2 separate regions of the Homo sapiens genome follow, and region 2 is linked to region 1. The links come from fine-mapping of genetic effects on plasma protein levels. Region 1 holds a variant in brackets. A gene starts in the other region. All regions are shown on their reverse strands.

Region 1 (14,592 bases):
AGATTTTACTTATTTCTATATTGCTTGCCAATATTTCTCACTTCAAATATCAATATGTATGTAACTACATCTTAAATATCTAAAGTTTTACATCTATACATATTTATGTGTGGTTATATAAGTTACATTTGAATATGTGTGTAAGTATTTCCAAGTTCACTTGATAAATATATCCATATTCTTAATATATTTGATGGCCAGGCGCAGTGACTCATGCCTGTAATCCCAGCACTTTGGGAGGCCAAGGCGGGCAGATCACCTGAGGTCAGGAGTTTGATACCAGCCTGGCCAACATGGTAAAAGCCCATCTCTACTAAAAATACAAAAAAAAATTAGCCAGGCATGGTGGTGCGGCCCTGTAGTCCCAGATACTAGGGAGGCTGAAGCACAAGAATCACTTGAACCCGGGCGGCAGAGGTTGCAATGAACCGAGATAGTGCCACTGCACTCCAACCTGTGCGACAGAGTGAGACTCCATCTCAATAAAAATAAAAATAGGCCGGGCACAGTGGCTCATGCCTACAATCTCAGCACTTTGGGAGGCCGAGGTGGGAGGATCATGAGGTCAGGAGTTCGACACCAGCCTGGCCAACATGGTGAAACCGCCATCTCTACTAAAGATACAAAAAAAGTAGCTGGGCGTGGCGGCGTGCACCTGTAATCCCAGCTACTCGGGATGCTGGGGCAGGAGAATTGCTTGAACCCAGGAGACGGAGCTTGCAGTGAGCCGAGATCACACCACTGCACTCCAGCCTGAGCAACAGAGCAAGACTCTGCCTCAATAAATAAATAAATAAATAATAAAAATAATAAATAAATAAATAAGACATTTGATGTGGTAGGAGTTTACATGTTTGTTACTGGTCTAGATTCACCTAGATTCACACTTTGTAAAAGCAGAAATACTGATTTATGAACCTCTAATAGCACCACTATTTAGCAGACAGATATTTTTGGATGGGGGCCGGGGGGAAGGTATCACATCATTCTAGGTTTTCCTGATTATATGAAGAATTAGTTAATTAGATTAATTGGACAATGAAAACCCAGGTGAAGGGGAGGCAGCCCCAGACTTTCACCGCTTTGTGCTTCTGACATTCGGGAGCCCCTGAGGACCAACCCCTCATCCAGGGAGCCTGGGTCCTCAGCTGGTGGATCCGTGAAACTCTCATCTCCGGGGGAATTGGCTCATGTGCTCCCGTGTCCCAGGCTGCACAGACAGCACACAGGGCTCAGTGACCTCTGTACTGGGGACCACTTTCCTTGCAGATCCTGAGCCCTCAGGGTGAAGGAAAACTCTCCCCCAAATGACTCAAGAGCAACATTTGGATTTGTAGAAAGCAGGAAAGCTGAAATAATTCATTAAGAAGAACGGAACGAACACTGCTACAGAGGAAGAGTTTACTAAGGAACTCCTTAGAACTCATGTCAGGAGACAGGGGAAGATAAGAATGCCGAGCCCATGGGAGAGGCTGGCTCAGGGTACTTCTCCTTTGCTTTGATTCTCAGGAGCAGCTGATACCCTCAGCCCATCACAAAACAATTCAGACCCCAAGACTGGTGCGTGAGGAGATGCTTTCAGTTATGGGGCTGGCACAGAGGGTCAGGTCCTGTGAAGGGGAGGTGGGTGCCCTGGGTGGACATCCAGAGGTCCTGGGTGATGTTGATCTGCCCTGACCTCTGTGGTCTCTTTGCCCACCATCCCCAACCTCACACCCCCAGGATTACACAGTGGAGAATCTCATCCACATGGGCAAGGCTGGCTTGATCCTGGTGGTCCTCAGGATTCTGTTATTTGAGGCTCAGCACAGCCAGAGAAGCCCCTAAGATGCAGCTAGGAGGTGAACAGCAGAGAGGACAATGCATCTCTCAGAGTGGTGAAACCTTGGGAATAGATATGGTGATCCCAGGAGGTTCCGGGAGACAATTTAGGGCCAATGCTATCTGGACTGTCTGCTGATAATTTCTAGAAGGAGGAATCAGTGTTGGATTGCAGAGATATTTTGCAGGGTGATCCATGGAGGACCATTAACATGTGATACCTTTCCTCTCTATTAATGTTGACTTCCCTTGGTTGGATCCCCTTCTTTTCCCACCCCTAGACATGAGGCTACATCCCACATGGCAGGGCTGGATCCACACCTCTGCACATCTGTGTGCTCTGGTCCATGGTGTGTAACACAGTCTTCTTTATTCCTCATTGCCATACTCCCTGGTGTGCTTTATTGAGCCTCCATCTCTTCAGTTCAGAGTTCCAAACGTGCTTCAGTAACTAAATCAATGGGAGAGTATCAGATTTCAACCAGGAAAAGATAAATCCACCCTGATGCCCTGACACCCTCTCCAAACCCTACAAGCCCTTCCCTCCTTCTCAGATGCTACCTGTGTATCTTCTCCTCAGATCACTGTGTAACCATCACTGCCATCCTGTTCCACACATTGTCATCATCCTACACCCATTCAGCAGCCACTCCCCATTCCCTCTTCCCTCCAGCACCTGCTAACCACAAGTGTGCTTTCTGTCTCTACGGATTTGCCTATTCTGTCTGAAAACATTTCAATCTCCTTTGACCTGTGAGCTCCTCACTTCGAGACTTCCTGCCTTTCCAGGCAGAACCAAAGTACACCACGTCAAAAGCAATGATAGGCATTTGCAGTGTGTTGGTGATCCACGAAAGGAAAATCACGGAAGTAGGATAGAAATCCAGCTGCAGACAAGACCTCAGGTCGATGAATCTTGTCAAGCAGTTGAGCTGTTTCTTTCTACTCACCTATGACAGTCAGACAGAAGTATGCAAAATGACTGGGGCTGATTCTTTTCTGAATTGTCCCAAACAGCAAGAGGACTTGAGTCCTAGCATTAAAGAGTTCAACATATCTAGGTCCAAGACGACTGTTGTGTTTGAAGGATGTAAAGCTTTGCTGTATAGGATAGAATGTTTGGAGGGAGGATCCTGAGAAAACATGAAGGACCAAATATTCACAATCTACTCTCTAGAATAAAGAAATCTTATCATTCACCATCTACCCTCTAGAGTAAACAAATCTTATCATTTGCCGTCTACCCTCTAGAGTAAAGAAATCTTATCGTTCGCCAGTTACCCTCTAGAATAAAGACATCTTATCATTCACCATCTACCCTCTAGAATAGAGAAATGTTATCATTCACCATCTACCCTCTAGAATAAAGAAATCATATCATTCACCATCTAACCTCTAGAATAAAGAAATCTTATCGTTTGCCATCTACCCTCTAGAATAAAGAAATGTTATCATTTGCCATCTACCTTCCAGGATAAAGAAATCTTATTAAGGACATTTTCAAAGCCTTAACAGAATATGAATGATTACAATATTATGTTTTACCTATACAGCGTCTTCCAAGTTCTAGTTTGGTTGTGCCAGGCCAAACATTTGAGCCAGATTTCGGCAAGATCAAGCAGGAGACTCTGGCATCTGTCGCTGATTACCTTCCCACCATACCCGGCCACCAGCCTTTCCCATGGACCCCCACATGTGTCTCCAGACTCTCGGGTACGAATCCTGTGAACACACTGACCTCCGCCTTCTGCATGACTGATCAGCAATATGAAATTTGCATAAACACAAATAGAAAATATACTGTCCCCACATTCCCTAAAATAAAACTGGGTCCTCGCCCATGGGCTTTTGCTGGATTATACTAACAAAAGGCAGGTCTTATAACACACATTCCATAGACTCACATCTCAGAGAATGTTGGTTCCACAGGCTCAGGATCCTGAACACACTGCTCCACTCTCAGGGCTCAGAGACATTCTGCATGTGGGTCTTCACCCCATTCGGGAGCCCTAATTCCTTCTTCCTCGGTTTTTCATACAGTGATTTTTCCCAGTCATCTTTAATACCTTCTTTTTTTAAAAAAATAAATAAAGATGAGTCTCACTATTTGCCCTGGCTGGTCTTGAACTCCTGGGCTCAAGTGATCCTCCCCGCTCAGCCTGCAAATCCCTTCATGCCCAGCCCTTACAACTTCATTAAAACACAAAATTTTAGTTTTTATTTCTAAAACTTTTTGGATTATGTTACATTTTGTTGAATATTAATATTTCCAATAGATATTTTACTAGTATACCTTTCTTCACTTACTGATTGTAAATTATCATTTCATTTTAGATGGTACTATTGTGTTTCATGCCTAGGTGTGATTGGGGTACTGGGCTATTTAACTTATCCTTCAGTGGATGAATTACTCTTTTACATACAGGATTAAAAAAAAAGAAAAATTTGGAATAACTTCACCTATTTAGTTAAGTATTCACTCAATTATATATTTTCGAATGAGGATTCATTTATCCTTGCCTTTAGAGAAGACACGTTCTAATTCCACTGTAGCTGAACTCTGAGTACTCACATGTGTACATGCACACTGACTCATACATGTGTGCCCGTGTGTGGTTGCATTCATGTGGGCATGTCTGTGTGTGATTTTCAAATACTTGCCTGTTTCTCACTTACATCACTGTGGCATCTCATATTCTACATTTTGGATTCATTGATTCTTTTTTTTTTTTTTTTTTGAGACGGAGTCTTGCTCTGTCGCCCAGGCTGGAGTGCAGTGGCACAATCTGCGCTCACTGCAAGCTCCGCCTCCCAGGTTCACACCATTCTCCTGCCTCAGCCTCCCGAGTAGCTGGGACTATAGGCGCCCACCACCACGCCCAGCTAATTTTTTTGTATTTTTAGTAGAGACGGGGGTTTCACCGTGTTAGCCAGGATGGTCTCGATCTCCTGACCTCGTGATCCGCCCTCCTCGGCCTCCCAAAGTGCTGGGATTACAGGCGTGAGCCACCGCGCCCGGCCGGATTCATTGATCTTCCAACTGGATGATATCATTTAAAATTGCCTTCACTGAGCATGAAAACAGTAATATCTAGTAACTTGCAGCTCAGAAAATGCCTTCTTTTTCCTCCCACTCTCTCTATCAAAATAGATGAAAACATTTCTGTATTAGTTAAAGGGTAAGTATAACACCTGGAAGAGAAAGCACATCTGATGATTTGAGAGATCCACCCTCCAATCCCTCCTCAGCCCTCACGAAGGGGAAGCCCAACCAGACAGCTTCACAGGTCCGTCTTGCCCTGAGCCTTCTTCTGTTTAGGAATTGGTCCCCTGCTGACCCCTTTACCTTTCAGGTATTAACCTGAGTAAGTATAGAATTCCTCACTTGCAGTTAGTCCCCTGAGAGTACTCTCTTAGCATCTCCTTCCCTTATCTTTTTACTATCGGGAAGTCCAGTCCCACTGAGAAGCAATGCTATTGACATGTTGAGTTGAAAATCACAAAACACAAAAATGCATTTTAAATTACATAATTCAGTCTAGCATATGTATTTTTTAATTTACTCCTATTTTTCAGTTTATCATGAGAGGTCAAGATTTGCATTTTGGCCAGGCGCGGTGGCCCACCCCTGTAATCCCAGCACTTTGGGAGGCGGAGGCAGGCGGATCAGGTGAGGGCAGGAGTTTGAGACCAGCCTGGCCAACGTGGTGAAGCCCCATCTTTACTAAAAATACAAAAATTAGCCGGGTGTGGTGGTGCGTGCTTGTAGTGCCAGCTACTCGGGAGGCTGAGACAGGAGAATCGTTTGAACGCGGGAGGTGGAGGTTGCGGTGAGCTGAGATTGTGCCACTGCACTCCAGCCTGGGCGACAGAGTGAGACTCTGTCTCGAAAAAAAAAAAAAAAAGATTTGCATTTCATGCTTAAATGTATGCACACTAGTGACTTAATTACTTCCTCCCTGAAGACCCCAATGGCACCAGACACAAATGCTCTGTCAGTTTTAATTTTCTCTTTAATGCAGGCGCTTCTCCTTCTGACAAGCTTTCATTTCTCATTTTCTGGACATGACTGTGATAACGGGGGTGTTGATGAAATATTATGAGAAGCATCTCTCAAGGGCAGGAACAAAGGGGCTCTCCTTAGTGGAAACATCAATCTCAGGCCTTGATGGTGGGCGCCAGCATCCCTTCATGCCCCCACCCCTCCTGTCTTCACCTGCTCTGGAAATTACCCATGGCTGAGCCCCCTGCAGTCCCCAGGCTCCAATGACCCAGCTCCCCTGTGATAAATGGGGTTCATCACAGGCTCCAAATGAGGAAACCGAGGCTCAGAAATGGGAGGTTACTGCCCAAGGTCACACAGGCAGGGGGTGACACATGAATATTTAAATAAAGACAAGATTTCCCCTCAAAGCAGAGTGCTAACCCCACGTATTGTCCCAGAACCTTGAACTCAGGAGCACAGGATGGGAACAGGAGTGTTTGAAAGAAGACAGGGGCACCAAGAAGGCAGAGTCAGGTCAATGTTGTTTCCAGGGAGACGGGGGCAGATGCTGTTGCGATGAGTGAATGAGAAGTTCGTGAAGGGAACGTTTTTGCATAAAGAAAACCCACACTCCAGTTCTGGGGAAAGAGTCATGATTCCTTCCCTTGTCTCCATGTATTTCCCTTTTCTGTTCATCGCCACAATAAAGCTCAACTGGAACTGCACAGCAAGATGCGAGATGAGTCTCTGCTGATGTGAGTCTGCCCCGCAGCCTGAATTTGCATCTTCCCTGAAGCTTCCCCAGGACTGGTGAGAAGACTGGCCATGGTAGGTTCCCCACAAGGGTGTGTTTATGGGTGAGCTGAAGGAGAGAGGGAAACCCCACGAGGAGTCTCTGAGAGGAAGGAAGAACCCTCCGTTGCCTTCACCTGGAAGGGACCAACTCAGGAAGGCACCACGTCCATTTGCAGCTACGTCCCGGCCCTCAATGAGACGAGGACATGTCAGGCAGACAGTGAAAGGAGATCAGGAGAGATGCCATGCGTGTCTGAAATATCAGCAGAAAGCCTGGTGCCTGTCTCAAAGGATGGTTCAATATATGCAAGTCAATAAAGGTGACTCACGACATAAACTAAGAACAAAAAGCATGTGATAATCTCAAGCGATGCAGATAAAGCATTCGAGAAAGGCCAAGTCCTGGGAAAACATGAGCCAGCGGGGTCCGGGACAGCTCACCACCCATGGAGATGCTGGTGGGAAAATCCTGTAAGTGGGAGTAAGGAAGGAGACCACTACTACTCCTGCTGCCCTCCTCCCCCCACCTTGCCTAGTTCACAAAACAGGAAGAGAGAAAAAGCCAAAAGTTGGAAAAATACAAAAGTAAGATAAATAGCCAGACAACCTTGGCACCACCACCCGGCCGTAGGAGTTAAAAAAAGTAATAATAATAACATCAACCCCTGACCTAAACTACTGGTGTTATCTGTAAATTCCAGACACTGCATGAAAAAAGCACTGTAAAACTTTTTGTTCTGTTAGCTGATGCATATAGCCCCCCACAGTCATGTTTCCCACGCTTGCTTGATGTATCACGACCCTTTCACGTGGACCCCTTAAAGTTATAAGCCTTTAAAAAGGCCAAGAATTTCTTTTTCGGGGAGTTCGGCTCTTAAGACGCGAGTCTGCCCACGCTCCCAGCTGAATAAAAACCTCTTCCTTCTTTAATCCGGTGTCTGAGGAGTTTTGTCTGCGGCTCGTCCTGCTACAGGAGAGCCCTGCCTCTCTGTGCCATGACTGTCACTCCCATGGCCATGGTCCACTTCACTGAGATTTGACGAGGGGAAAGGGAGATTCTAGCATGAGAGGGACCCTGCCCCACAGATAGGCCCTGGTCCAGTAGGAGACCCCAGGGGCTAGGGAGGATCCCATTCTCATTTTCCTGGGAAAATGTTTTCACTTCTCCCCATTCAATTTGATGTTGGCTGTGGGTTTGTCACGCAGGGGGTGTTGGTATTTTGCGGTATGTTTCTTTCATGCCTAGCCTGTTGAGGGATTTTATCACGAAGCGATGTTGGACTTTCTTGAAAGCTTTATCTGCATCTATAGAGATGATCATATGCTTTTTGTTCTTAGTTCATGTCATGAGTCACTTTTATTGACTTGCATATATTGAACCATCCTTTCTTCCCTGGAATCAAGCCAACTTGATCATGATGAATTATGTTTTTGATACACTGTTAGATTCCGTTTGCTAGTATTTTCTTGAGGATTTTTGCATCTGTGTTCCTCAGATTTCTTGGCCTGTAGTTTTATTTTTCTGTTGGATCCTTGTCTGATTTTGCTATCAGGATGATACTGATTTTGTAAAATGAGCTGGCAAAGAATCCCACTTCCTTGATTTTTGGAATACTTTCAGTATGATTGGTACCAGCCCTCCTTCGTACATACAGCTAAGTTCAACTGCGAATCCATCTGTTCCTGGACTTTTTTGCTGGAAGATTTTTAGTACTGATCCTTTTTCATTGGTTGTTATCGGTCTGTTTAGAGTTTCTATTTTTTGCCTGTGCAATCTTGGGAAGTTGTGTGTGTCTAGGAATTCATCTATTTTCTCCAGGTTTTCTAGTTTATGTGCATAAAGGTGTTCATAGTAGTCTCTGATGATCTTTTGTATCTCTGTGGTGTTGGTTGTAATGTCAACTTTATCATTTCTGATTGTGCTTATTTAAATCTCCTTTTTTTGGTTAGTGTAGTCAGCCATCTCTCAATTTTATTTATACTTTCAAAAAACCAACGTTTTCTTTCATTGATTCTTTGTAATGTTTTTGTGTCAGTCTCATTCTTTATCTGTCCTTTCAGAGTTTCCATTGTTTTCAGCATCCATCACTAGCGAGCCAGTGCGATCCTTTGGTGGTGCCACAATATTCAGATTTTTCACGGCGTCAGAATCCTTACACTGATTCCTTCTCATCTGGAGAGGCCTCCACTTACTCTCTTCGAATTTATTTTCGTTTGGATGGGATTTCTTTTGCACATTTTCCCCCAGCCCCGCAGGGAGGGTGACTGTAGAGCATGTTGGGAAGGGTCTTTTGGCTTTTCCCATGGCTTTGGGAGCTTCTGCAGCAGGGTTTGCATTGGGCTGTGCAGCTCAGATTGCAGGCCAGGAGCTGGTGCTTAAGGGTAAGAGCCACGCTCGGCACAAGCAGGTGGATGTGGACCTGGTGTGTTTCCTGTGAGGTGCTGACTCTTGTTTCAGGGGAAGGGCTGGACCGTGGAGTGTCAGGTGCCCTGAGCTTCCTGTTCCACAGGGGCGAGGGAACACCCCTGGGCAGAGCTGGAACCCCCGGCTTGCCCACAGATATCCCAGTGATGAGTGCAGGCACTAGTCCTGATGGACATGGCTGGAGCAGCTCCTAGTGAAATGCCCTGAGGTCTCTGCGGGGAGTGAAGGAGCTACACCGTTTCCAGTCCCATAGGGAGGAACGTTGTCTGTCTCCCTATCACACCCGTGCTCCAGGGCTCATGAGTCTCAGTTCAGACACACACTCTTGTCTCTCCCCAGGCCACAGTGTGGCTGAGGGCAGTGGGAAACACCTGCCTTGCCACTCTCTGCAGGCGTGGTTCCAAGGCAGAGCCTCCTCCCTCAGCCCAGTGCAGACCCTGAGCGGCTGTCTGTTGTCTGACGCGGTAGCTGCTTCATGTAGGTGGGATGTGGGGCTTCTGCCTCTCTGGATGGGAGAGTGGACGTCAGTTGTGGTGGTGTTGCTGGCTGGGTGGGCCCGACCTCAGGCCCTGGGGTGAGTGGTCAGGTGCCAGCAGGTAGGAAAGGGCAGGTAGTTCCCGGATCACAGGCCCCTAGGTGGCCGGCTGGACAGCGTGTGTGAGTCCTGAAGGGGCTGGACTGGGTTTCGGCTGCTCCGGGGTTCAGATGCTGGCTGTGATGGGGAGGGATGGGCTGGTCCCCAGGTCACCGGCAGAACCTTCAGGCGGGGCAGGCAGAAGGCTCAGGTGGTAGAGCCTGCGGCAGATCACAGGCCTGTGGGGACTGGGCTCTCAGAAGGGCTGGGGGCTGCAGCTGAAATGTCCAGGTGGGGGCAGGGTGGCTGTGCTGTGGGCCTGTCACTAGGGAGGGCAGCGCCCCTCGGCTGGGGCACTGGAGACTGGCAGCTGTGAGGCACAGGGCCCGCTCACACTTCCCTCCTGAAGAAGTGTCACTCGGTTTTGCTCTGGGGACACGTGAAAGTGCCAGGCCTCCCCACACCCTCCCTGGGCCTGGGGCAGCAGGGGCAGAGGCAGAGGTGGCAGTGACTGCAAAGGGCTTGTCAGGGGCCTCTGAGCATTGGGCTTTCAGAGGGCACCGAGCCAGGGCCACGGTGTTCGGGTGGGGGCAGGACGGGTGACTGGGGCCCTGCAGCTGGCAAGCCCCATTAGCAGGAAGGAAGCCCCATTTCGCAGGAAGCAACAGAGGTGGGCAGCTGTGTGGTGCTCAGCTTGGCTGCTCCTGTGCCCCAGCTGTCATACTTATTCTGGGGCCCACAGAGGTGCCTGGCCTCCTCCCTCCCTGCTAAGGCAGTGGCAGCTGGACCCAGGCTGCTCAGGGATCAGAAGCCTGTGGGATTCCACGTGGGCTCCAGTGGGGCCTTGGTACAGTCTCCAGGAGCAAACTGTGGGCCTCTGGAGGCCCAGAGGGGACAGGCGCTCTCCTGTGGGCAGGATCCTAAGGGCCCACAGCAGAGGTGTAGATGCCAGGGACCCCTCACTCACTCACCCCTTCCCTGTGTTAGGGAGGCTCTCACTCATTCACCCCTTCCCCGTGTTAGGGATCCTCTCACTCACTCACACCTTCCCCGTGTTAGGGATCCTCTCACTCACTCACCCCTTCCCCGTGTTGGGGAATCTCTCACTCACTCACCCCTTCCCCGTGTTGGTGAATCTCTCACTCACTCACCCCTTCCCCGTGTTAGGAGCCTCTCCTGGCTCCCACCTTTTCTCTTCTCTTCTCTCCATGTCCTCATGTTTCTCAGGTGAACCCCAGCATCCTCTTGGAAGATCCACTTGACCTGTTGGTATTTACTCGCTATTTTGGGTCCTCTTAGTGAGTAGGCAGACTCCAGCCCTTTCCATTCAGCCAACTTGAACCTCAGCCCCCAGTCATTTTCTTGCACTTTTTACTCTTGGGAAATCCAGTCCCAATGTGCTTGTCTTTCATTGGACAATAATTTTCATTTTCTCCAGTAGTTTTAAAATTACTTTGTATCTATTCTAGGTATCTTTTACTCTATCATAGTTAAGACATTGATGTTATTTATGAATTTGTTCACGTTAAACTCATGTTCTTTCTTCATTTCTATAAAAATGTCAACCATTTTCTTTGCAAGTATTTACTGAATAACATACTCCTTATTTCCTTCATTCTGAAAGTGTGATCCAAAGAGAGATATCTGTTTCCTCTTTTCATTCCATTTCTTGTGTGCATTAATTATCTTTTCTATTTTTTTCATTTCTAGTTTTTCTCTGATGACTAATGAAAAATTTTAGTAAATATTCTACACCAATACAATGTTTATCATTTCAGCTGTGTCTTGTTCTGGATGAAATTATTTCTAAATGTGTTAATATAATTTACTATTTTCACATCACAATAGCTTCCTAATTCATTTCTACAATTGCCTGTTTTTTCTCTAACGGACTCTTTGATTTTTATTCCTCTGGGGTGGGTTTTTCTCCCACACACCTGATCTTCCATATAGGGTTTCTCCCCAGGCTGACTCAGGAAGGAAAGCTGATGAGGGCATTGCTGTAGCCGCTCCTGCCCTGCGGTGTCCATGCTCCCAAGCTTAGAATCACCTCTGTGTTATGCCCGGCATGGCGGGGTCCATGTGAGCCTCACACTCCAGGGTCAGAGATGCCCGGTCCAACAATGATAAAGCGCATCTGTGTCATGCACACCCGGGAAGGTGGCTCAGTGCTGAGTGTAGCCCGGGTCACTGAGTCATCCCAGGGTCTGTCCACAAACACAGAAGAGGGGGAGTCACAGTCTCTAAGGTCCCACAGTTTCCTCCACTTTTTTCCTTGTTCTGAGAGTGAGACAAAGGGCCATGACTGTTCTGTGGGTTGGACAGATGCATGTTTCCACCTGCAGGCTGGAACCCAAGCTGAGGTCTTGAGCATCCCCAAGTACTGATAAAGCACTTTAGGTTGTTTCTAGAAAACACTGAAAAATTAACCCTTTTGCTAAAAGTGTAGAAACAAGCCCTCCCCTGAACCAAATTCCTGAAACTCTCAGGTTAAACTTCGTAACCCCATCCCTTCACTGCAGACTCCCAATAGAAAAGTTACAGGTGCAAGGATGAGATGACTTTGGTCAAACTCAGACCCCACAGGGCCAGGAAGGCCTGAAGGAGAGGAGGCCCATGCTTCCACGTCTCAGATAAGAACTGTTTCTAAGGACTTTTAAAAAACCCATAAGAAACTCTTCCATGTCCTTCAGCCCCTTCTGCTTTGACAAGGTTTATCACTAGATGTTCTTTAGGACGTCAGGAATTCAGATAAGATGCTCTCAAGAGAACCATTGACCAGCAACAGCATCTCCTCCAATGGACTGACAGCAACTCTGGCTTTGAACCTGTGGAACCAGGGAACTCTGTTTCCAGGCAGCTCTGTCAGGCTCTCCCTTGTTGCTGATAAGAACTTCCTTTACCTCTCTATGTACAGAGAGCTCTCTCTACGGTGCTTTTCCTCTACTCTCACGTCACAGGAATCATCAACACAGAAAAAGACTTCTAGGACCAGATGTATGGGGTTTTTTTCCCCAGACGCAGTAGCGAACAGCAGCTGGGTGTCCTCTAAGTCAGCTCTGGTGCTGTCTACCCAGAGACAGTCCCGGATCCCACAGATTGAAGGCCCATTCCCCAAAACTGCCCCCAACACCATTCCCAAGTCCAGACCTCCAGAACTTCTGACTGACTGGCTTCAAGTTGGGGATCCCATGCCCCACTCTTTGGGTTTGATTAATTTGCTGTAGCAGCTCACAGAACTCAGGAAACACTGACATTTCCTGGTTGAATACAAAGCACACTGCAGAGGACACAGATGAAGAAACTCATAGGAGGAGGCATGGGGGAAGAGGCCCGGGGCTTCCATACCCTCCCTGGGCGTCGCCCTCCAGGAGCCTTAGCATGCTCAGCCACCCAGAAACTCATGAAACCCAGTCCTCTGGGGCTTTTATGAAAGCTTCATGACATCAGCATTTCCTCCCACAAGGAACAGGGTGAGACTGTCTTCTGGGAGGGTCTTAAGATCCACTATCAGAAAGGCAGGGAACATTCGAGTCTTACTTTGGGTTAGGTGAAGGAAGGGCAGGAGGAGGTCAGAGGCCTCCCCTGAGGCCCAGCACAGCCAATGTTATAACAAAAGACTATAACAAGGGCTATGGGAGTTACAAGCCAGGAACTGCGGGTGAAAACCAGCATATATCACAACATCACACTTCCCTCTCTGGACACACTGTGGCTTGCCATGCCATGCACTCCATATTGTAATCCTTGCTTCTCACTCCCAAATAAACTCAAAATCCAGGCAACCCTGGAGCAATGCAGCCTTGAATTCCAGGGGTCTCTTATATGCACACTTTTTCCAAACAAACGGGGATCAAAACTATAGCATTTGTGAGAAACAAGACTTGCGTATATGAACGGCAGACTTTTCCTATATGCAGACCCAGCAGAGACAACGTCAGGGCTGGAGTACGAGCAAGTGTTGGTACATGTAGGGGGTACTGAAACGAATTGCCTGTGTATCCCAAGAAACAACTGTACTGAGAGATCATATTTTCTAGGGGTTTATTTTTGGTTTTGTTTTTATTTTAGGTTAAAGCTTTGGATAGAATACCCAGTGTCTCCTTGTCCATCTGAAGAACATGCTGCTATGTGGAAGCACATCCTTGAGATCCACAAGGAGACACTGGGCAAGAAGACAAGGATGCCCCACTGTGCAGAGGTCCCCCTAATAAATGCTCTATGAACACCCTGGTGTTTAGTGCTTCTTTCCTTGGAATTCCAGCAGGTCTGGACAGTTTGGTGCACTCCCTTGAGGGAATTCCCCTGGGCTGCTTGGGGTCCACTCCAGCCTCAGGTGTAGCTAGAGGACGCAGCCTCCCACCTTGGTCTGGAGCCCTGAGCCCCTCACTGTCATTGCAGATCCCGGGGTTCCTCTCCCGGCTCCACTCAGTGGTGGAAACCTCCACCCTAATGAGCCCTTGATGGTCCCGGGACCCTGTGGCATCTCACCTCTGGCCTCTGTTCTTTCTTGTGAGTCCGTCTACACTTGGGGTTT[C/T]CACATGTCTTTTTCTGCTCATGACCTTGATACTCTGGGTATTTCAGAAATGCTACACATACGTTTCTCCATTACGGTCAGATGTGACATCTTGAGTGGACTCATCAATCACCTACAGAATGTGGAGTCCAACAGCAAGATCCTCTCACGTCCCAAAGCCTCAGGTCTTACCCTGGTCTGGAAATCAAGCACAAATGAGCCCCTCCCAATGTCCCAGGCACCACTGACCCCACAACCACTGTGACGAGTGGGATTCATGACAACAATCTGCAAAGGAAGAAACTGAGGCTCAGTGATGGGACATTACAAACCAAGGTCACGTAGGCAGCGGATGATAACCAGTCATCAAATAAATATCAACTCCCTCCCCCACTCCCCAAATCAAAGCTCAAACATAAGTCATTGTTCCCAAAATGTTGACCAGGAATTGAGGTGCAGAGGGACGGCTAAGGACG
Region 2 (15,493 bases), not on the chromosome of region 1:
ATCACATCATTCAGTCAGCTGGGAAACACTACAGTCCGGCCTGCCAGGGTGTGAGGCAGGAGAACACGAGGTAGCCACAGGATAGCCCTGGGCAAGCTGGAGTCCCACCTCAGCCTCGGATGCTGAGTCTCAGTCTTCCAGAAATCTAGCCAAAATTACTAGACCACTTTTGGGCTGTAGTAAGCCATAAACAGATGGACTACTATTCCCCAAAGAATGCTAAGGTTATTAAAGCCCTCGGCTCTGGGTAAGAAGAACAAAAAGCACCACTCAGCTCCTTTCTGGCCAAGCCACTCTTCCCTGAGAAAGAATTCGGAAAAACAAGTCTTGCCTCACATTAAACTACACTTACTCCTGACCTTGACTCCTCTGTCTCTTTACCTCTCACAGAGAATTAATGGAAAGAGTGAGACTAACAAAGAGAGATGGAGTCAAAGAGAGAAGTGCTTCCTTATGAAGATTAGATAAGATGTTGAAACCAATAGGAGGGGAAGCACAGTGATGGAGTGAAGAATCAGAGGAAAACATTTCTGTCTGCCTGAATTGCGTGGGGCGCTAGGAGTTGGGTGCTGGGGATGAGTGTGCTAGGTCCCTAGCACCTAGCTTCTAGTGCCCCACGGCTTTTGTGAGCTAAAGATTTCCCTGATAAATGAGACAGCCTGAATCAGCACTGGGATATGGAGTACAGTGGACTGGAAAGGGGACAGGAAGGAACATACAGATGAGAGATCTCCCCCAATTGCCATGCTTTGGGAAGAGGGCTTGGATGAGAGCTATAAGTGAGGAACTAACCAGTCTCTTGTGAATTCCAGGTAGATCAAGGTGGCACTGGGGAAGTAGACCAGGATGACCCCTGATCCCTGGCCACTGCCCCTTAGCCATTCAGCCTCACACTAGCAGCAGCAGAATGCCTCTAGAGGTGCATGTATCTCTACCAGCAACCAACAAGATGTATTGCCCACAAGCTAACCCTTCTCTTCCAGCCTTTTGTTTTTGCTTCCTGACTTTCCTTACATCTTTATTTTAGTTTGATTATACCACTAGAGAAATACTGACAAAGTGGAAAGAAAAAGATGAGAGAGCTGCATCGTGCTAAGGATGATTATGGACACCCAGATACTCCAGGGAAAACCTTGAACTCTGAACGCTGACTTGACCTTCTTCGACTGACCCTGGGACCTCAGGCAAACTGGACAGGCAGGAGGAAAGGCAGGACCCATGTGCAGTTCTCCAGCCCCCCTAGTGCCAGAGAGTTAATAAATGTCAGGAGACTTGTCTAAATAAACAAAGAGCAACCCCAGGCTCTAAGCCTGGGAGCACCGGTCTTTAACCCCAGGAATCCTTCCCAGACATGCCACGGCTGTCAGCCCTAAGTCTGACTTCACTGACAGAACCTTGTAGAGAGACAAACGATCTATACCCTATCTACTGCATAGGAATGAGGAGGTCTTAATGGCACAGCCACTGTAGCTTGAGAGCTACAGCAAGCCTTCCAAGCTGGAGATCCCTTTGCCTCTGATGTACCACCTCCCACCACCAAGCATAAGAGTGCTTAGAAAATAAAGCCAAGATATCCATACAAAAGCAAATAAACCTTGACTTATATCTCACACCTCATACAAAATTAACTCAAAATGAATTATAGACCTAAATGTAAAACCTAAAAAACTTCTGCAATAAAACATAGGGAAACATCTTTGCAGCCACGGGTTAAGCTTTCAAAAAAACAGCACGAGCCATTTAAGAAAATGATAAATTAGACTTTATCAAAATGTAAATCTTCTACATTTTGAAAGACACCATTAAGAAAATAAAAAGACAAGCCACATACTAGAAGCCGAGATTTACAAAACACAGATCTCATAAAGGACTTGCATCCAGAACATACAAAAAACACTCAAAATTCAATCATAAGAAAATAAACATCCCAATGTTTTTTGTTTCTTTTTTTTGAGACAGAGTCTTCCTCTGTCACCCAGGGTGGAGTGCAGTGGTGCGATCTTGGCTCATGGTAACCTCCCTCTCTGAGGGTAAAGTGATTCTCGTGCCTCAGCCTCCCAAGTAGCTGAGACTACAGGCACGCGCCACCAAGCCCGGCTAATTTTTGTATTTTTTGTAGAGCTGGGGTTTTGCCATGTTGGCCAGGCTGGTCTCAAACGCCTGGCTTCAAGTGATCTGCCCACCTTGGCCTTCCAAAGTGCTGGGATTACAGGCATGGGCCACCATGCCCGGCAAACATCCCAAGTTTTAAAAATCAGCCAAACATTTAAACAAAGATTTCACCAAAGAAAAGATGGCAAATAAATAAATTTTTTAAATGTTCAATATAATTAGTCATTAGAGAAATGCAAACTAAAACTGTGATGACATACTATTACATGCTTATTAGAATAGAATCACTAAAACAAAACCAAAAAAAAACTCTACCAAGTGTTGTAGAGGATTAGGAGCAGCTAGAACATTCGTACATTGTATGAATGTAAGATGGTACAGCCACTTTGGAAAACAGTTTGGTGATTTCTTATCCAGCTCAACATATACCTGCCATGTGATGCAGTGATCCCACTCCTTCTGTTTATCAAGAGAAATGGAAACATATATCTTCCAAAGACTTCTACGTGCACGTGTCTAGGAACTTTATTCATAATAGCCTAAAACTGAAAACAACTTAAAAGTCCACCAACTAGCAAATGGTTAAACAAACTGGAATTCCATGGTCCATCCAACGCACCACTACTCAACAATAAGAAAGGAACAAACTTCCAATATATGCAAAAACATGGATGGATCTTAAAAGCATTATGCGACAGAGGGTGGACACAAAATATGACATTCTGGAAGAGGCAAAACTACAGGGATAGAAGTTAGATCAGTGATTACCAGGGGCTGGGAGGGAGTCATTTTTCTACAAAGGGACACAAGGTAATATTTAAGGATGATGGAAATGTTCTATATATTTCTATTCCGGCGGTGATTACATTACTGTGTATGTTTGTTAGGGCTCATCAAACTGTAGACTTGATGAAATTTATTGCATATAAATTATACCTCAATAAATCTGACTTTAAAATGATAATAAGGACAAGAGTTAGCAATATGCCTGCGGGAATTAAGTGACTTGTTGCATGCTGGTTCCCGCAGTTGTCTGGATTTCCCCTCCCTTCTTCCTGCCCCACCACAGAAGCACGGCAGTCCTCCCGCACTTTCTGGTGAGACTCAGGTGATGGGACCAGCACTAGGCTAGAGACCACTCAGGAGGGTGGGAGGTCCAGGTGCCAGTTCCAGTTCAGCTTCTGATGTTAACTGGGGCAAGTTACTGAGTCACCCTCAACCTCATTGCAAAATGAGGACTTTTCACTTCTTTCCAGGCCTATGATTCTAATTTGTAGTCTGAAAAGGAATGAAGGCTATCCAATGAGTGGTGTGTCCACACCGTGAAGGTCTGGGGAAAGGACAGGGCCCTAAACCCTCCCATTCTTCAGAGGCCCCTTTTTCTACCCTCAGGTACTGTAGTGGGCCCTCTGACCCTCACCAGCCTTAATCCCCAGGAGTTCAACAAGAGAAGCAAGTGGTTCATCATCACCCCATAAGGCCACACCCTGTGATTCTTATAAATGAGGCCAGTAGACAGTAGCTTCCAAAATTCTTTCAGTATCATATGCACTCTGTTGTCTTAGCAGGCATGGGCAGATCCCATTTACAAATGTTTAAGAGCAACGCAGGATCCCCACACAAAACAGCAGCCTCCACCTAGGCTCCAATATCTGACCCACGGGAGCTCCACTCTTCAGCCTCCAGGAAGACACCCTACAAGACATGCTACACACCTCTGCAAACACAGTGTTCTGAGCTCAGTTTCTGGTCCTGAATATCAGAGTTTAAATTTCCATTCCACCGCTTACTAGTTGTGTGACCTTGGATGAGATATTTAACCTCTCTAAGCCACAATTTCTCCTTCAGTAAAACAGTGATAATAATAGTCCCCATCTCCCAGGGCTATTGGGTTGATTAAATAAATCACTGTGCATCCAGTTCTTAGAACAGTGTAGCAAGCACTTAGTGTTAGTTATTATGATTTAATTTCACTTAATTTGAAAACTGTCATTTCTTGTAAGTCTTGGCAAATGCAGAGGTTTCTTTATTAATGTTCAATGTCAAAAGATGAGCTATCTTGGGGTGAAGAGAAAGGTTGCTTGTGTTGAACCCAAACTAGACTCAGACTTGAAGCTGCTACTCAGTTTTTTCTCACCAGAGGTAGGTGCGGATGGGGAATTTCCAGGTTGATTTTGAATCCAAGACTTCTCCAACAATGCTATACTTATCAAAAGTAGATTTAGGAGTATGAGGAGATAGGGAGGGTCATCCAAATAAGACAGAACCGCTCCAGTATGCCTGCACCGTGGCCACGATACCTTCAAAGTACTGTCTATGTACCAATTTCTGTTGAGGAAACAAGGTACAAAGAAACTCCCATATGGATACTAGCAGGATTTGCTAGTGTCTGGGGAAGATTATAAATTAGCTAGTTGCTGCTCACATCAGAGCCAAGCAGGGCACATTCAGTTTTTTAATCTGGACCAATTTTCCGGATCAAAAACTAGTCTTTCCAAGGGATGTAAATGAGCCCAGGAGGGAAATTTCCCCTGAAGTTATGAAGTAGCTGTCATTTTAATCTGAGAAGCTTTCCAACCTGAAAGCTAGTGTCTGGATAAAATTATAAAGTAATAAAAATAAAACTCTTCTAGGTTGAACCTAGTCTAAACACTTCTATCTCAAATTTGATGTAATTAATATGCCAAAGTATTTAAGAGGTGGTGTTTCCACTATCAAAACCCTATCTATGCTTCAAATAAAACCAAAGAGGCCAGCATGGCATATTCCTGGCATGAATATCAGAATGAGACCCTGAATGAACCAGGTAGAAAATCTTTTTAGGAGAAGAACTCCAAAAAATAAGAAGGAAAATATGATGACCCACATGAGCAGTTTTATACAACAGGTTTTTATAAAATGCTTTTTAAAAATTCCCCTTAAATGGATTAAAATATATCCTTTAAAAAGCATTGCATACACTGTTCATGCTTTAAAACTATAGATATAACTATGCTTTGTTTAAAAATTGTGACAATTAATAGATGATTTCATGTGAATAAATCTGCAAAATGCAATTGATCGTGATGTGGTTATCTTAAGGAGGAAAGTTAGAAAGAAGCCCTTCACTGAAATCCTTGAAGGTATATGTATGTGTGCGTGCAGGAAGAGAAACAATTTAATGTGATATTACCTTGGACTGAAGCTATTATCTCCAAAATGAATTGAAGAGCTCATAAATGGAGTGGCTCATAATTTAAATATGGTGTAGATTATGATAATGACCTTAGATTTCAAGGCAGGTAACAAGTGCTGGTAATAAGAGACACAGTGCAAAGACTGAGGACGCTTCCAGAGCCGAAATGCAACAAGTCATATTTCCAGATAGAGAGTTTCAATGCGAAAATATTTAAGCATTCACATGGGATCCCGCTAAGACGATTTTCTCTGCCCTCTGATAAATTTTCCTAGCTTTGCCTCTTTCTTACAGAAACGTTTGTGAAGACAAACTGCACTTTCTGTGAGGTTTTGCAGACTGCATTCAAATAAAAGTAATATTGTTTTCCATTGTTCATAAGATATAATTAATCCCATAAGACAACCTCCCTTACAAAGTAAGTTAAGACAAAACAGATTTTTCAGAATTCTAAATATGGTCCCAGCAAAAAGTAATAAAAATCGTTATTTGGGAAACAATGTTTAGAACTTCATTGTTCAGAATGTTCTACTTTGAATAATCTCACAGCATAGGCCAAATCAAAGTAGACCAAAATAAACGAAGACTTTTTACCTATATGCAGCTAGAGGAAACACACGTTATTATGGTTTCAAGTTCTCCCCCAATTCCCAGTCCCTTATAACAGGTTACAACGTACATTTCTTTGTTTAAATGCCAAAGCAAAGACAGGAGTTCAAAACACGGTAAAATTAACCCACTGGGTGCTTCCTTCTGAACAAATGGCCCCAGAGTGGAAGAGGATGCTAAGAGCAGAGTCCACATCCCTGCACAACGCGTGGGCAGGACCCGAGATGGGCAGAGGGGGCTCCAGGCAACCCTTCAGACACTTAACAGGAAATGGCTGGGCTCTGGACAATATGAATTGAGTAAAATGTTTGGAGACGCAGGAGGGGCTGGTTTGACTCCTCTGCATGGTTGCCATCCTCTGTAATTGAGACAGCACGATCGCTGTCCCAACTGTCAGCTCTCTGCGGTCAAACACGGGGACCACCACCTCTATCTACTATGTCTGGAAAATTGATCATTCTTTTAATAAATAAATATCCCTAGCGCCGCCCGGGCTCGGGGGAGGGCGAGGTTTGCGTCTTTTCTCAGCTCCTGGCAGAGCTGAAGCGAGTTAAGCAGACGTTGGTCGGGGAGAGGGAGGCGGTGCGCTGCCCGCTCTGTGTCCTCGCCCCGGAGCCCAGCAGGGGCGCTCGGGGCGTGGTGGCTCTGGGCGGAGGAGCGCATTACCTGGTTTTCGGATGGCCGCTCGGAGCGACACCGCGCCGGGTCCGAGGCTGGAAGCCAGGAGCAGGAGCCGGAGCAAGACGCCTCGGATTAAATCCATTTCGCAGCCGGCGCCTGCAAAGTTTCACCAAGTCCCGGGCGCACACGGAAAGGGCGTCTCCGGGGGCGCGTGGGGGACGCGGCCCCAACGGATCCCCGGGCCGGGGCGAGGAGGTGGGGGGCTGCGAGGGCTGGGCCCGGAAACACGGGTAGTTCCAAGAGGTAGGACTGCAGCCGGGAGGTCGGCGTGCGCGAGTGAAGCCGGCTGCAAGCTGCAGGGCTTTTCGCGGGGGCGGGGGCGACGAAGGAGGCCGACTGGGAGGGAAGGGCTGGCCGCGGGAGGGAGGGAGGCTCGACCGGCCCGGGGATGAAATTACAATCGAGTGGAAGTGAGAGGGACAGGCCCTGAAACCTTCACTCCTCGCCCACCTCGGAAGCAGACAGCCCGCCCCTCACCCTCTCTAGCGACCCCCAGCGCAGCCCTTCCCCGCTGGTGACCTAGATTGGGGACCTGGGAGGGACCGACTTCAAGCACTGGAGACGCAGGGCAGGAGTTAGGCGACTGCGGGTCCAGGACCCTCCGCGGTCCTCACCCTGAAATCTTGGGGCGCCCCCCCTCCACCCCACCTGGGCCCTCCTCCTGCCGCGCCCCTCTAGGCGACTTTTTCTAACACCTCAAAGGTTGCTGTAGTTGGTCCAGCGCACTTGGGGGATGCGAGGGGTAGACGGGGGTCTGTGATTTGCAAGTGGGGTGGGGGTGAGAGGAAGAGAGGCGGGACCGTCCGGGTCTGAGGCGCTAAGAAGATAAATGGGATTTAAGGCTCGCAGATGGAGAGCTGAGGCCAGGCCGCTCAGACTGGGACGCCGGGTGGAGATTAGGGCCTGGAGCGGGGGAGTGGGGGCCCTTCCCGGCAGAGGAAGGCAACTTGAGACCCTCCTGGGGAGGAGATGAAACTCCAAGTTAAGCCTGGCGTCTTAGGGAGGGACGCGAGCTCGAGCCCCCAGGCGGACCGAGAAAAGCCCCTGGGCGGCGCCCAGCTGGGCCTGGGGCAGGGGGCCGGGGCGGGGTCCTGGCCTCTGATCCCGGGATCGGGCTTCCTGGGTTGTCTCCTGAATGGAGAAAGACTCTTTCTCCGCCGCTGAATTTGCTGCCCTAGGACTCAGTAAAATGTACCTTTTGCCAGATTTCGCGGTAGTGCCTGGAGAGGGGAGACCCTGCCTGGGACACAAGTCCCGTTGCATACTGGCGTTCTGACCTCCAAACCAGCGAGAAGAGAAAGCAGATACAATAAATAAACCAAGAGGGAATAAACTTAGAGGCAAACGCGGCCCTCGGCAGTTCCTGGGGAAAGATCAAAGGCCGTAGGAAGTGCCCCGCAGAGGAAATCTGCAGTCACTAGCGACAGGACCGCGCCCGCCCCCTCCCCACCTTGCAACGCTGCCAGGACTCGGTGGGCGTCCTGGCTCTTCACAGTTAGCCTATGTTTGGGAGCGCGGGAGGAAACAATGTTGACTGATATATTCTTCTCCCCTCCCCAGCCCCCCAAACACACACACACAGGATTTCTACTCCTCTTTTAAGAATGAAATATCCCCTGGCTGGAGAGTTTGTAATGAGCTCAATCTTGTTAGTTAGCAAAGCTGAGTGTGTTCCCTTATGTGTTGGCATTTTCAAGTGTGCAATTGTCTGTTCACAAATAAATTCAAAGTCCCCTCCAACTTGAGTATTTGGAAGTTTTAGCTGTGACACCAGAGCTTGTCCTCTTACATAGAACTGGAGCAAAGTTCAGACAGAACTATGCTCTTCACGTCCAAGGTGACCATAAAGCCGGCCACTAAGCTAAGCAAAGTGACTGCCCCCAAGGCTGCTAGTCTCAAAGGTCTCAAAATCATAGACTTTTTAGCATTTTAAAGGTCATCTAGGCCATGCCTCCACTCCACGCAGGAGTCTGCTTTCAGCATTGGTGTCGGGTCGTGCCACCTCCCTTTGAACTCCACCTGTGTGAGAGAGCTCCTCCAGCGCCAGCTGAGAAGTTGTTAGAGGCCTTTCTTTATGCGAAAGTGATTTCTTATCTCGGACTTAATGTGGCACCCAGAACCAAGCGAGTGTTGCAATGCAGATGCCTCCCATGCAGGCTTTCCTACTTAAAAATGATTCTCTGTGATGCTGAAACTGGAAGTAATAATAATCGTTGATATTATGGCTACCATTTATTTAAGGTCTCCTATGTACCAGACCTTCTTTGAAGTGCATTTTAATCCCAATAACAACCATACCAGGAAGATACTGTCATTACTATTCTCGCCTTTTACAGGTGAGGAACCTGAAGCATGGGAAGGTTAAGAAACTTGCCCAAGGTCATGCAGCTCCCATGCAGCGCTTGAATCCAAGGGGTCTGATTCCAGCTTTCAGGCTTTTGAGAGAACAATGTGGAAAGTAAACACAGCAGTGGACTGAGAGGATCGGGAGATGTGGGTGTTTAATCCTAGGCTCTGCGTATAGTGTGCCTTGGTAAAAATGAATGGGCTGGACGAAACAATCAGTAAATTCCAGGTTTTGCTTTCTCTTTAATAGCTGATAAAACAGCATCATCTAATCTAAGCTACCTTTACTCTGCATGTGCCTTTTAACAGACCCTGTGCAAATTGTCCACTGCAAATTTCGCAAGCCTGGGCAGCCTTCTTGCCAATGTCCTCCTCATGTGCCCACACCACCTCGGCATCCCTGGCCCTGGGCCTCCCTTCCATTTTTTTGCAGATGACCATAGGCGATTTGGGAAATAGGCTTGGTTTCTTCAGAGACCCCTCTTGTTTTTTCCTTGGGGAAAAACAACATTAGATTATACTGTTGTATTTTTACCTCTGAGGGCCTGCAAACACTCTGGATCATCAGGCCATTGAGATAAGACCTTATTTCACAAAATCTGCTTCAAATCTAGAGCACATGTTACATTAAACTTATTCCCTTCCTTTGCAGTTCAAATCGCATCCTCCAAGGGAACTGGAAGATTCCCTCTCCTTCCAGTTTGAAAACCAACTATGGCATTTGTAAATCTGACTAAAGACAAATAGAACACTTGCCTTTCACTCTCTTCCTGCTTTCTGAGAGGAGGGGAACTAAAGAGGGGCCAAGAGGCTTTGAATGTTTCATTAAAAAAAAAAAAATCTGTTCAAATTCACTGGAGGTCTAAACTCAATTAATAAGGTCACCAGCAGAAGAGTGACCTGCCTACTTTGCTCATTATCATGGAAGAGGAATCTGACCTTTGCTGCATGGAATAGATTTGGAGGCTGGTAGAAGAAAGTAAAGGCAAACTTATCAATTATAGAATGTTTATTAAGACTCTAAATGAGAGTGACAAAGAGGCAGCAGCCAAGAATCATCTTTTGATTTATTTTTCTAAATTGGTTATATCTACATGTAAAATTTGAAATGCAGATCAGGCAGAGTGTATAGTGAAAAATAAGTTTCCTTTTCTTCCTTCTACCATCACCAGTTTCTTGGATATCCTTCTAGAGATGGTCTATGAATGGACAAGCTAATTATATACACATATATTTAACGCAACCAAGAGCATCTTCTACGTACTTCTTAACCTGATGATCCTTCCAAATCAGCAGATACAGATCTGCCTCCTTCTTACTAACTGCTGAATAATATTCTACATGTGATATGTAATTTATTTGTTCTTTCTTCTGTTGTTTCCAATTATTATAAACAGCAGGCATGAATGACACTGAATATGTAATAAGTTGCACATGTTATAGTAGACTGTAGGGTTCATTTCTAGACTAACCATGCTCGGTCAAACAGTAAATGCCTTTTCAATTTTGATAATTTGGCTACATTTCCTCCCAAGGAGGTTGTACTATTTTACTCCCCAATAAGCAGTATATGTGCCTAACTAATTCCGTGAACTCTCACCAACGTAGTGTCTTATCAAACTAGAAATATAAATATACATATATTTATATGTTACATTTTAATCAAGATGCAACATACAAAAGTATCAAATAGTAAGTGTACCAATTGATGAATTATAGCAAAGTGAGCACACTTGTATAACTTTATTAACTACTGCCCAGATCAAGGAATAGGATATGACCAGCACCCCCACAAAGCCCTCTTCATGCTTCCTCTCTAGAAGTGTGTATTTTTGAAGAAGGATGAGGGATGAGAATTCTAACCTCCCATTTACCTTTAATTAAAACACACAAATAAAAGTAGATCAGTAAAAATAAGTAAACACTCTCCCTACACCAATGTAAAACAAACATTGAGACTGAATCCCATTATGTGTAAGTCTCTGTGCTAAGAACAGAAATAATATATTAGAGAAAATGCAACAATATTTTTTGCACTCAAGAAGACTACAAATTTGTTGGGAGACGAAGACAGTTGCACTGTCAATTGTTCCATAAAGCAGAACAAAGGAAGCCCTAAATAAGAGTGCAAATAATGTGCTATTGGGTTGAGTGACAAAGACCCTGTATTACAAATGATAACATATATAATAAGATACTGTATAATGCATAGCCATCTGCTATGCATTATGTCCTCCTTGCTTATACTTGATTATAATTAAGTATGTAATCAATGGACTGCACTGACAAAGCAAACGTGTAATAAACCCCCAGATCAAGAAATAAAACAATACCAGCACCCCAAAAGCCTTTCATTCTTCCCACTAACTGTAACCTACCCTACAACCAAATAGGTAACCATTTTCCTGATTTCTAGCACCTAGATTATTTTGGCCTGGTTTTGAACTTTATATAGATGGAATCATGCAGTAATGTAATCACTTATTCCTCTTTTACTCAACATTATGTTTGAAAAAATTCATCCAAGTTGTGTGGTTATTCATGTTCATTGCTGTGTAGTATTCCATTATAGAAATGTATCATAATTTGTTTATCCATTTTACTCCTGATAGACATTTGGGTTGTTTCTAGTTTGGAACTACAACCGAAGATGTTGCTGTGATCATTCTTGTATGTGTCTGTGGCAGACATATGTATGTGTATCTGCTGTGTATACCTGTGAGCAGAATTATGAGGTTATATGATAGGCATATGTTTAGGTTTGGAAGGTATTGTCAAACAGTTTTCCAAAGTGGCTATATTCATATACACTCCCATCAAAGTATATGAGAGTTCTAGTCATTCAAAAATCATACCAACACTTGATGTTGTTTGTCCTTTTCATTTTAGCCATTTTGTTGCATGTTAATAATACCACATTGTGGTTTTAACTTGTGTTTCCTTGAAAACAAGTCAAGCACCTTTTCACTTCTTTATTGGTTGTTGTATATCCTATTTTGTGAAGTGCCTATTCATGTCTTTTGCCCATTTTTCTATTGGGTTTTCTACTTATTTCTCATTGATTTGTGGAAATTCTTCATATATTCAGGATACAATTTAGAGGAGTTTTTCTGTTGTAGTTGAATATATTGGTAATATTTTCTTCACTCTGTCTTGGCTTTTAACTCTCCTGACGACTTTTAATGAACAGAAACCCTAGTTTTAATGTAGTATGATTGATCGATTTTTTTCATTTATGGCTAGCAACTTGCCCCAGGTCACAAAGACATTATTCCATTTTTTCTTTGAAAAGCTTTATTGCTTACCTTCTACATTTAGATCTGCAATAGATTTTTATGTATGATGCGAGGTAGTGCTCACAGCCTTTTTAACTTGATGCTCCCTCCTGATTTTGATATGGGCAGCTGCATCTCCACAGGGAGGAGATGTGGTTTGCAGGATGTGGCTTCTGTGCTGTATCTTCTCTGCCAGCGTCAGCCAAGCTGAGGCTCAGGGCTAAAGCTAGGACTACACATCTCACCTGGGATAAGCCCTCTAGATTGCCACCCTGCATTATGTGTTTTGGATGAAGCTCTATGTGTTTACAACAAAGCCAATCTGCCCCCAAATATCACACTTAATGAAGTATTTTACAAATATCTTCATGAAATTTCTGTCGTTTGAAATACTCCCATGGGTTAAAACTATGACTCATTTATGACTTATAGCCCTTCTATTCCAAAAATCATGGGGGAGAAATGTTTTAAGAACTTTTATCCAGGTGGTCCCTCTTAAAATAGACATATGTTTCCTGAAGGGGAAGGAAGGGCTCATGAATACTGTGCCTGTTAACACAGTGGGGACTCATTTATTAGCTCATTTAGCTGTCACTTAGGACAGCAGCTCCAGGGTCTACAGCAAGTAGAATAATACATGAGTTTAATAGTAATTTGGGAAGGAAAAATTTTCAGAATCTAGGATATAGATTGTTAGTAATAGCAAACCCCTGAAAGCAATAAAGGTAGCCATCATTGGAGAAGAGACTGGTAAAATAAATTGTGGAATGCAATAAATCACTCTACATCTGTTTAAAAAAAAAAGTGGGCTTTGGCTGGATGCAGTGGGTGACTTACGCCTGTAATCCCAGCACTTTGGGAGGCCCAGCGGGCAGATCACTTGAGGTCAGGAATTCGAGACCAGCCTGGCCAACATGTTGAAACTCCATCGCTACTAAAAATATAAAAATTAGTCGGGCATGGTGGCAGGTGCCTGTAGTCCCAGCTATTTGGGAGCCTGAGGCAGGAGAATCACCTGAATCTGGGAGACAGAGGTTGCAGCAAGCCAAAATCATGCCAATGCACTCCAGCCTAGTCAATAGAGCAAAACTCTATCTCAAAAATAAAAAAAAAAAAAGGGCTTAGAGCTTCATGTGCTACAAGGAGAAAAGTGAATCCAGCAAATTTAGGCAGTGCAAATGTGTTAATGAGTGTGGGAAGAGCGCTGGAGTGTCTGAGGTGAATGGGGGAAAATTAGCATTGTGTTATTTTTCACTGCTTATGTTTTTAATCATAGGAAAGTCTATTTGGGTTCAAAAGAAAATATGAATTAATTTTAAAAGAATATAGGGCAGTCTAGGTGGAGTGCTTGGTGGGACAGGAAGAAAGATGGAATCTGAGAAACCAAGAGACAAGATATAGATCCTGAACACCTTAGGAGAAAGAGAGGATGAAGAGCTGGAAACTGGCACTCCCAAGGGGGAGGTGGGCATGAAAAGCAGACCTCACAAGTTATATGGTTCTGTCTAGAGCTGCCAGATTGGATGAGCAAGAAAAATAGACATGCACACGCCAGGGTCTCTCCCTGTATTTTCAGGAATATGGAGAAGCCATCGTCTTCCTGAAAATACAGGGAGACCCCCTGTCGTGTGCATGTCTTGAAGATGTCAGGGATCCTCCAGGGTCCTGTGACCTCCACCTAACCATGAACCACACAGGACACAACAAAACGAGAGAGCCCCAAAGTGGCCAAATGCAACTGCGTACCATACTAACAGGCATCTCTTTGGAGACTCACACACAATTTCAAACTCAGGGCTAGTTTGTGAAATGACATGGCAGCAAGGAGATCTCCACAGAGTAGAGGTCAGGAGATCTGCACTCTCGTTCCATCTCTGTCACTATTGTCCGTGGGACTTTAGCAATTCCATCAACCACTCTATCCCTTATTCTTCTCCTCTGGGAATTGAAGATGTCAGATAAAATGCCGCCTCAGTCTGTCCCAGGGCTCACGATCTCCACTCTCATGACAGAGCTGCTTTCCTTTTCCCAGGACAGGCAGATGTCACTTGTTAAACACAAAAGAGTCTTATAAATTTTTTTATCAGGAAAAACTTTGAGGTTGGAAAGCAAGTCTCTAGCCAAAAAAGGAAAATGAAAACAAAACAAAATAAAATGCAGCATTTAATACACACACACAACACACACACACAACACACACACAACACACAACACACACACACACACAAAGATGGCAGGACAAAAGCAATGCCTTGCCTCTGAGATGGTTGTAGGAAGCTGACTCACGGTTTCCAAGCCAGCCCTATTTAGTCCATCCAGAGAGCGGAAATGGCAGGCATGAGAAGGGAGGGAAGGGAAGACTCCTGTGGGGAGGTGAGCGTAGGAAGCAGAGAAATGCTGGCTTCGTTTCTGGCTTCTTCTGCAATGGTACAAACAAATGCAGATTTTCTGATGCCAAGAAAAAACCTGTAAAAAGAAGCAAAAGGCCAGTTTTTCAGTCTGAGTTTGATATTTTTATGTGTTTTTCTTTAAAAAGAAATTCAGCTTTTATTTTAGATTCGGGGGTACGTGTGCCGGTTTGTTAAATGGGTACTTTGTGTGATGCTAAGGTTTGAGGTACGGCTGAGGTATGGATGATTACCCCAGTACTGAACATAGTACCCAATAGGTAGTTTTTCAGCCCACACCCTCCTGCCTCCCCGCCCCTTCTATTAGTTCCCAGTGTCTGTTCCCGTATGTATGTCCATGCGTTTTTCTTAAAGAGGGAAGTAGGACAAAGGGGATGGAAGGATTTGTAAGTACAGTCTGATCAGTGAGTGTCGCCAAGTAGAAGGTGTCAAGAAGGTGACAAGTAGCTGAGTTAGGGTTAGCTATGTTATGGTTAGCTAGCTATGGTTAGGTTGGTACCCAGTCCCAGGGAAGGAAGGGTGTGAGAGAGAAGGGTTCAAGCCAGAGGAGAAGGTGGGTGGCATGTCAGGATGGCAGTGCTCGTGCCAGGAAATAAGAACAGAATAATTTCAAAGGAAATTCCTTATCCAAAAAAGTAGGAGGGAATGGCTTAGATTCCTATTTTAAAATTAATTGACAATATGAACAAAGATCAACAGTTAAGAAGGAGGAAACAGCTTTGATTTCCTCCCCCCTGCAATGAAACGTAACATCTACTTTAAAGGGTGTGCCCATCAGATAGGATAATCCAAGGGACTGCTCATGCCACACCCTTGAGCGTCACTGAATGTGGTTTGGCTTTATCATTCCATCAGTCACATCTATCACAGAGACAAGCTAAGTCCTC

Which allele goes with the higher level. Positions count from the first base shown, and alleles are read on the strand shown. Strength reflects both the effect of a copy and how common the allele is.
With allele T in place of C in region 1, the plasma level of the protein whose gene starts at base 6,855 in region 2 is higher (strong association).

Evidence for each region. PIP is the posterior inclusion probability: the model's chance that the variant is causal. Protein levels are from antibody-based Olink assays in UK Biobank. Linkage for the fine-mapping came from a reference panel and not from the study's own genotypes, which makes the PIPs less certain.
Region 2: EGFLAM starts here. The variant in region 1 is fine-mapped to the plasma level of the EGFLAM protein (UK Biobank, PIP above 0.99).

Annotation. Positions count from the first base shown.
Region 1 is chr19:54,281,284-54,295,875 of GRCh38, reverse strand. It overlaps MIR4752 (microRNA 4752), which reads right to left and starts at 13,767; the gene lies at 13,696-13,767. RefSeq lists an enhancer at 9,920-10,421. The variant C/T (reference allele first, on the strand shown) is at 14,138.
Region 2 is chr5:38,249,921-38,265,413 of GRCh38, reverse strand. It overlaps EGFLAM (EGF like, fibronectin type III and laminin G domains), which reads right to left and starts at 6,855. Exons shown (of 22, transcript NM_152403.4): 1 at 6,563-6,855. The coding sequence starts at 6,659. LOC124900966 (a long non-coding RNA gene) reads left to right here and starts at 6,748. Exons shown (of 2, transcript XR_007058739.1): 1 at 6,748-6,820; 2 at 7,783-8,317. RefSeq lists an enhancer at 7,724-8,225.